Linked DNA regions of Homo sapiens. The protein of the gene in region 2 interacts with the protein of the main gene of each other region in a pairwise test. Each region holds a gene or a part of one and is shown on either strand. Other genes may lie near its edges.

Region 1 (3,817 bases), on a different chromosome or scaffold from region 2:
GACTTTGGGAGAAAAATCCTCACACCTCCACTGAGATTCTGACATCCTTTCTCCTAATGAGCCTGGCCACCAGGGGTGGAAAGGGACGTTGAGAGGCATTCAGTTCACCCGCAGTCTCTTCCAGCCTGATGGGATGGGATGTGAACTCTGGTCCAGAAGCCAGACGCTTGTCAGGAACCTAGTGTGGGGCCTCAGCCGAATCATTTTGCCTCTCCAAGCCTCAGTTTCTTTACCTGCAAAATGGGAACATTCTTGTCTATTCGGCTCTGTTCCCAGGGACCTGGTACAGCCACACAATGTGATGGGCTTAAAACTGGGTTTCTCCACCTGGGCACTGTTGACATTTGGGGGCCAGATAATTCTTGGGAGGGGGGCAAGGGGCTGTCCTGGACATAGTGGAATGGTCAGCAGCTTCCTAGCCTCTATCAGCTAGACACTGGTACCTACCAAACCGCACCTCTCCTCCCCAGTTGTGACAACCAAAAATGTCTCCTGAGCTTGCTGTATGTCCCCTGGTGGTTAGGGTGAGCAAAATCACCCCCCAAGTGAAAAGGCCCTGCTTTAAAGGTACTTTGGTGGCTGTAAAAAAGTCAAATGGGTGAGGCGGGGATGGGAAGAGGGTGCATGGAGAATGGGGAGCCCCTGGAGGGTCTTGGCCTCTACCCCAGGCTGGGACATTGGGATGTGGGGAGATGGAAGCTCTGATCCCAAGTACAGCCAACTCTCTTCTCCACCCCATGCCAAGCTGGACACAGTCAACTCAGGGACATTCTTCTGGGTGATGACAGTGGACGCAGAGTCAAGGTGTGGTTGGTTGGGGTGAGCATCTTTCTTGGGGTGAGTGCCAGCAGGGATCCCAAGAGGAGAGGAGAATCCTCCTGTCCCCGTCCTCCTCATCTTCCTCCACTCTCATGGTCCCGTTTCAGAAGCTGGGCCTGTGCTGCAGAAGCAGCCAGGTGGGAGGAAGTGGTCCTCTGTCTCCCCTCTGCACATGGTCAGAAAGCGCCAAGCCCTCAGAGGGGAAGAAAGTGACGCGTGTACATGTCGCTAAGTCCCGACAGAGATAGGAGGGGTGTGGGCTTACGGAGGGGTAAGGAGAAGCCGTGCCCTGGGAAGTCTCACTGCCGCTTCCTCTCAGGGTCCCAGAGCCTGCGAAGGCCTTCTCATGATTCTAACCATCCCCCGTCCTCACAGAGGCCACCTTACTCTTTACAAAGCTTGCAGGCTATGGAAAGTGACTGGCACAGACGTAGCCTGTGTCTGCACACAGCTGGTTGCTCAACCAGTGCTGGCCAGATGCACGGAGTCTCTCCTAAACCAGTAGCAACACCACCTAGGTCAGAGAGATGTGGTCCAAGTCAGCTTGGGTACATATGTGTCCAGAGGAGCCCAGCTGTGTCTAGGGCCAGTACTCCCAGGCAGGTGACAGGGGGACAGATTCACACTCCAATCCTCACCTTTTTGCCTGGGGAAGCTGCTTTCAGCATCCCCCCTACCCCAGCCCCTTGGAGTCACCCGTCCCTAGCCAGCCCCCTCCCTGCCCCTTTCCCCGCTGCCTCCACCACACAGAGCCGCAGGGAGCTAATTCCACTTCTCTAGGCCCAGGCATGAGGCCTCCCCATTGCAGGCTGTTAGCGCAGAGCCCAGCTGAGCTGCGAGAGGCTGCAAGCTCCCAGTCTATAATAGAGTTGCTGAGACAAGCGGAAAAACTGCAGCCGAGTAAACAGATAAATAATTGAAACAGTGACAACACATACCTTGCTGCTTCGTGGAGTAACACTTTCATTAGCTGGAGGCAGCGCAGATGTGGGGAAGCAGGCGGGCGGCAGCTGAGGGCACGGACGCTTGGGTTCGCTTTCCATCAGCCATGAACAGCGGGACAGCCCGGCAGCCTTGGGCTTCCAGCGCTGGCTTCATCGCCACCTCCCTGCCTTCTCCCACTTCCGCATTCTTAGGTGAAATGGGGACTTCATGTCCTCTCTCCTGGCCCATCCCAAGACGAGGGCAAGTGCCCCACGCTGTCCCCGTCTGCATCGCCCGTGCCGGGATGTTGGATTCCTGGCCTCCTCCCGGGCTCCCTGCCTCTAGTCTTGCCCCTTTCGATTCATCCTCAATCTATAGCCAGAGGAGCTTGTAAATCTAATCTAATCCTGGCCCCGGGGACCACCGCCTTCAGGAGAAGCTGAGCTCCTTTGCTGTGGAGACCCTCCATGATCTGGCCCACATTTTTCTTCGCAGCCTCTTCTCATCCCACTTCCTTTCTTCTCCAGGTGCTGTGAAGGCAGCAAGCTTCCCCTGAGCGCACACTGCTCTTTCCTGCCGCAGGGCCTTTGCTGTTCCCTTTGCCTAGAAAACTCCCACCCGTTGCCAGGCTGGCTCCTACTCTTCCTTCAGGAGGCAACTTAAAACATCGCTGCCTCCAGGAAGCCCTCGGTTATTACCTTATTCTCAGGATGGGGGCTGTCCTTCTTCTGGGCTTCCTGCCTGCATCTTGTCAGTGTCCTGGGGAAAGGGGTGACCAGGGCCGGTTGAGCACTCACGTGTGGCTATCTCTGTGCTCTGTGGCAGGTGACGGATGGTGGCACCATCAAGCAAAAGATCTTCACCTTCGACGCCATGTTCTCCACCAACTACTCACACATGGAGAACTACCGCAAGCGAGAGGACCTGGTGTACCAGTCCACTGTGAGGTGAGTGCCTGGGGGTGGCGGGCCGACAGCGGGGGAAGGGCGGAGGGATGGGGAGTGGGGCAGAGGGCAGTTCTCCAGCCCTTTCACATCAATCCCTCGGTGCTCTTGGGCTTGGAAGGCAGAACTGGGGGCTCCCCTTATGGAAGTGGGACCCATTCCCTGGAGGGACATCCCCTGGAGGGAAGAGGCAGGAGAGGGCCAGGCCACCGCTCTTCTGACTGGCCTCCTCTGCCAGCTCCTCCAACAGTCCTGGAAGGTGGGTATTCCAAACTCCATTTATTTCCAAGTGAGATACTGAGGCCCAGAGAGGGGGAGCAATGGGCCTAAAGTCACACAGGCAACAATGACACCGCTGGGCGGTGAAGCAGTTCTGCCCGGCTTGGAAGCTCAAACACCACATTCTACTGTTTTTTGTGTGCTCCAAGGCCATAAGGGCCCCGAGCTTAAGAGAGAATGACCCCAAGCAACTGGACTCCCAGGTCAGAAGCAGCAGGGTGGGAAGGAGCAGTGCTCAAGTCGGAGATGCTTGATTTTCCTACCCCATCCCTGTTTTCCAGGAGGCGGGTGGCAGAATCAAGCTGACTCGATCTTCCAGAGCCTGCTGTTCTCTATGTGTGTGGCTCTATCTCCTTCCCACAAACTCCCTACAAGATCCTAGTCCTGTTTTATCCCTTTGACCCTTAACACACACCGGTCCCTCTTCTCAAAGGGCCTTTCTCCCTTCGGTCATCTGGTAAACTCCTCATCAGCCTTCAGAACCCCACTCCAGCAATTCCACCCATGGGAGCCCTCACCTTAGCTGAACTGATCCCCCAAAGCTGGTCGGCTGCAACTGCCCCAGTACCCACCCCTCCTCAGAGGGAATCTCACTGCATTCATGAAGAGTGCACAGCTTTGCACACACACACTCTTCCACGCCACACCGCCAAATGCTTTGCCAGGTGCCCAGCCTGAAAGTAGTGGTCTGCTCCAAAGCTGGAGGGGGACCGTGCTGCATCGGGTACCGTGAGGGGGACTGCAGCCCCGGCAAGCCCACATGATGTGCACTGTGGCACCATGCTATGTGGATGTCTCAGCTAGTGCCTGGTACTGTGTTGTCTTTAGACTGAGCCTGGAGGAGGGGGAAG
Region 2 (3,817 bases):
TCAGCAAACCAGAAAATTAAATTAACCAGTGGCTCTCCGTTCCCCAGTGGTCTGGGTAATTGAGGCTTATTGTATTAGAAAACATTTAAACTATTTGTAGTTTGATAGAAAAGAAAAATCCATCACTGAAAACTTCAGTTTGCAGTTTGAAATAGTACAAGATTTCTTTATTTCTACCACCTAACACATATTATTAAGTAATCTCATTACATTTTTGCTATTGAAGAACAGGATCTTTTTAGATGGTTGTTTCTGAAATTCATGGGATAGAGTTCCATTTTGCATATCATCTCAGCCTGTCATCCTGCCTGTTTTCTTCCTTCCACCTATTGTTTAGACATTTCTTTGTCCATTGACACCTTTCTCAGGGGGTAACCGGTGGGAAGGAGAAGGCAAGGAAGAACAGAGGTGAAAAACCAATGTGTACCTCTTACTACTTTATAAGAAGATATTATGGAAAATTTAGATGAAATTATATTTTTTGGTAGTTTTCCTTCATAGACAAATTCTGTATTTATTTAATAAATAGCACAATTCCAAGCTTTTTATGGGAAAATATAGTAGCCACTCACAATCAACTCATAATCTATGTGGAGACTTGAGGTAGGTATGAAGAAACAATTAGAAGATAATAATTGAAACAACAGACAATTAAATACTAGATTGTTGAATATAGAGCTAGTACTATCGGAATTGAGAAGAAAAGAAGTTTGGGGTTAGAGAAATGGGTCTTGAGCCTGCCTTTCAGGTCAACAAGCATGTGTTGAGTGTCTCCTGTGGGCCAGGTGCTCTGCTGGAGCATTTACCTTTAAGACCCCAGATCAATAGGGTCTTAAAAGTAAATGCTCTAGAGACAGATATGGGAAGAAGCAAGAGGGAAAGAAGTAATAAGGCATTTGTTTGATTAGAGGGTCTACCTTGGGGAATATTGAGAAATAAAATCCAAGTAGCAAGATGAGTTCAGTTGAAAGAGAGCTTTGAGATCAGCGAATTCACTCATTCAATTAAAAATATTATCAAATGCATATTATGTGCTAGGCTCAGGGTTACAATTATAAGCAAAGGGGGTAGGGTGGGGGAAGACATTTTCTGCCCTTATGGAATTACAACTATGTTAAATGTAAAGGAAAGTGACATTGTGCTAAAAGATCCTACAATAGTAGGACTTGACTTAGAGGAAAGGCTTCTATGAGAAAGTCATGATTCAGATCTGGAAAATAAGTAGATATTAATAAGGCAAAATGTATGGAGGTAAGGGAGCCAGTAGAACATTCTAATAAAAGAAATGACAAATGGAAAGGCCTCATGGTGGAGGAAGCATAATGAAAAATGAGGATGTGGGGGCCAGATCATGCAGGACCTTTTTGGCAATGTTTAAGGAATTTTGGCTTTAGCTTAAGAGTAAGGGGAAGCCATTGAAGAGTTCTGGGCATGAGCTCTTGAAGAGTTAGTATCAGGATCATGAAAAGATCCCTGTAAGATCTTCTTATTCTGGAGAATAAGAAGGGCTCAAAAGATATTTAGGAGTTGAAACTTAAGGGACTTGGTATAATATCTTGGTGTGAGGAAAGGAAGATAGCAAGGATGACACTCAAGTTCCTAACTTGGAAAACAGACAGTGGCGCCATTCCTTGCAAGAGGATCAGGTTTTAGGTTGTTTGTTTGTTTGTTTGTTTCCTTTTCTTTTGGGGGAGTGGGGGGAGGTTTATGAGTTTGGTTTTACATGTATTGAGTTTGAGATGTCTTTGAGCCATGTAAGACATGTGGAGAGGTCAAGTAAGTCATTAGCGGTGTAAATATACTTTGAGTTACTTGGATGTATTTTCTTGACTAACTGGTAGAACGCCTAATTGTTTACAACTCTGATCAGAGATGTCTAGAAGGAGCTCTTTTAATACAAAGCTGGAGCATTGTTGACTTGTCAGCTCTGCTATTGCAGAGCAAGACAGGAAAACCAATAGCATAAGAACTAAAATCTATATAAAAACGAAGAATATTGTCATATATTTTGTGAAACAGACAAATGAACAAGAAATAAAGAAAACAGAAAAATATATATAAAGGCCTATTGTGTCTTACTATGAAAGTAATGCTTAACTTCTTCACTAAATGAGCCTTCTCTGAGACTTCCTTTATATTACCACTTTCTCTAATATTCACCCCAGTAACAGCCATTCCAAATGTGAAACTTAAGTGATAAGAAGAGCTCACTGGTTGGGTTACCTCAAATAAAATAAAAATAATGTGAGCATCTTACACAATCCAGGTTGAAAGCCAAGTTTTACCTCCTGTGAAGTCTTTTGCGTTACAAACTTGGTATCTTTGCCCTTTAAGCCTCAACCTCACGTAGTATCTTTTCTGGACAACAGTCTATTTTTGGTTGGCCTTGGGAAAAGGAACTGATAAACATATTCTTTAAAAATGTGGTTCATTTCACTTTCCTAAGTTAGGCAGTGTAGCAGGGTATTAAGGAGCCAGGATATAGGGATTCAAATCCTGCTTTTGTCACTTATTCTCGATAAGATTTGAGGCAAGTTTCCTAACCTGTCTTTCTCATTTTACTTATCTGTTAAATGGGGGATACGTATAGTACCTATTGCAGAGAGCTTTTAAAAGGGTTAAAGTAGTTAATACACATTAAGCCTTTTGAATAGCAAGTGTTCGATAAATATTATTAAAACTAAAATTTGAAGTTTTTATAGAAATCAATATTATGTAAGTGATGCAATCTTATTTTATTAAACCAAAATTGAAATTTAACTGCAGTATATCAGGAAGAATCTAAATATTACTTACAGTGAAGAAGATGCTGGTCAGAACGTAATTACACTCAGGTATGAATGAATGATGGAATTGCAGGTATGTTTTACTAAATGGTATAGCTCATGAGTCTCACACCCAGGTGAATTCCCTAGTGCTATAGGATTTGATTCATTTATGGTCTCCCATTATTTATACTGTATTTGTTCTTCATTGATTTTATTCTTTGCAGTCGGATACTTCTGGAGACTATGAAATCACACTCTTAAAAATCTGTGGTGGAGATGACTGAACCAAGAAGATAATCTCCAAAGGTCCACGATGGGCTTTCCCAACAGCTCCACCTTACTTCTTCTCATACTATTTAAGAGAACAAGCAAATATAAACAGCAACTTGTGTTCCTAACAGGAATTTTCATTGTTCTATAACAACAACAACAAAAGCGATTATTATTTTAGAGCATCTCATTTATAATGTAGCAGCTCATAAATGAAATTGAAAATGGTATTAAAGATCTGCAACTACTATCCAACTTATATTTCTGCTTTCAAAGTTAAGAATCTTTATAGTTCTACTCCATTAAATATAAAGCAAGATAATAAAAATTGTTGCTTTTGTTAAAAGTAATTTCTTTGTTTGCTTTCAGAGCTTGCCAACATTGTTTGATGCCTGGTGCCAACAACTAATATTTTAAAACATGTTTCTGTATAGAAGCTGTTACTGCTTCAGTTTATCACCTTGTTAATCACACTTTTTTGAAAGAAAGGAATAAGATGAAGATGTATGTGACCCTGGCCTACCCTTTGTAGTTGTGATCAAGCTATAGGAGTGGTAATGCATGATAAGTTATTTCAGCTTTCAGAAAACATCTGCTGAAGGATTAATCTAACCACTTCCTGTCTGAATGGCAAGCATGAATTATGGTTGCTTCATGCTAAATACTACTTTCCCAGAATGGGCATTTAGAATCAAGCCTCTAAGGTTTCCTTTTCTCTTGAGTTGGCAAAACTATGCATTTAAAGAATCCATCATGCCATCTTTGAGTGGGACCTAATA

What was found.
Region 1: the proteins of ANXA3 (region 2) and IGSF21 interact in a two-hybrid assay, tested with the Homo sapiens proteins (one large-scale study listed by BioGRID and IntAct).

Annotation. Positions count from the first base shown.
Region 1 is NC_000001.11:18,289,298-18,293,114, forward strand, and holds part of IGSF21 (immunoglobulin superfamily member 21 precursor), read left to right. Parts: exon of another isoform or gene 1-233; intron 234-1,757; exon of another isoform or gene 1,758-2,568; coding exon 2,569-2,690; exon of another isoform or gene 2,691-3,817. UniProt on the Homo sapiens protein: Involved in synaptic inhibition in the brain. Selectively regulates inhibitory presynaptic differentiation through interacting with presynaptic NRXN2.
Region 2 is NC_000004.12:78,607,064-78,610,880, forward strand, and holds the end of ANXA3 (annexin A3), read left to right. Parts: intron 1-2,992; coding exon 2,993-3,052; 3' UTR 3,053-3,384; downstream 3,385-3,817. UniProt on the Homo sapiens protein: Inhibitor of phospholipase A2, also possesses anti-coagulant properties. Also cleaves the cyclic bond of inositol 1,2-cyclic phosphate to form inositol 1-phosphate.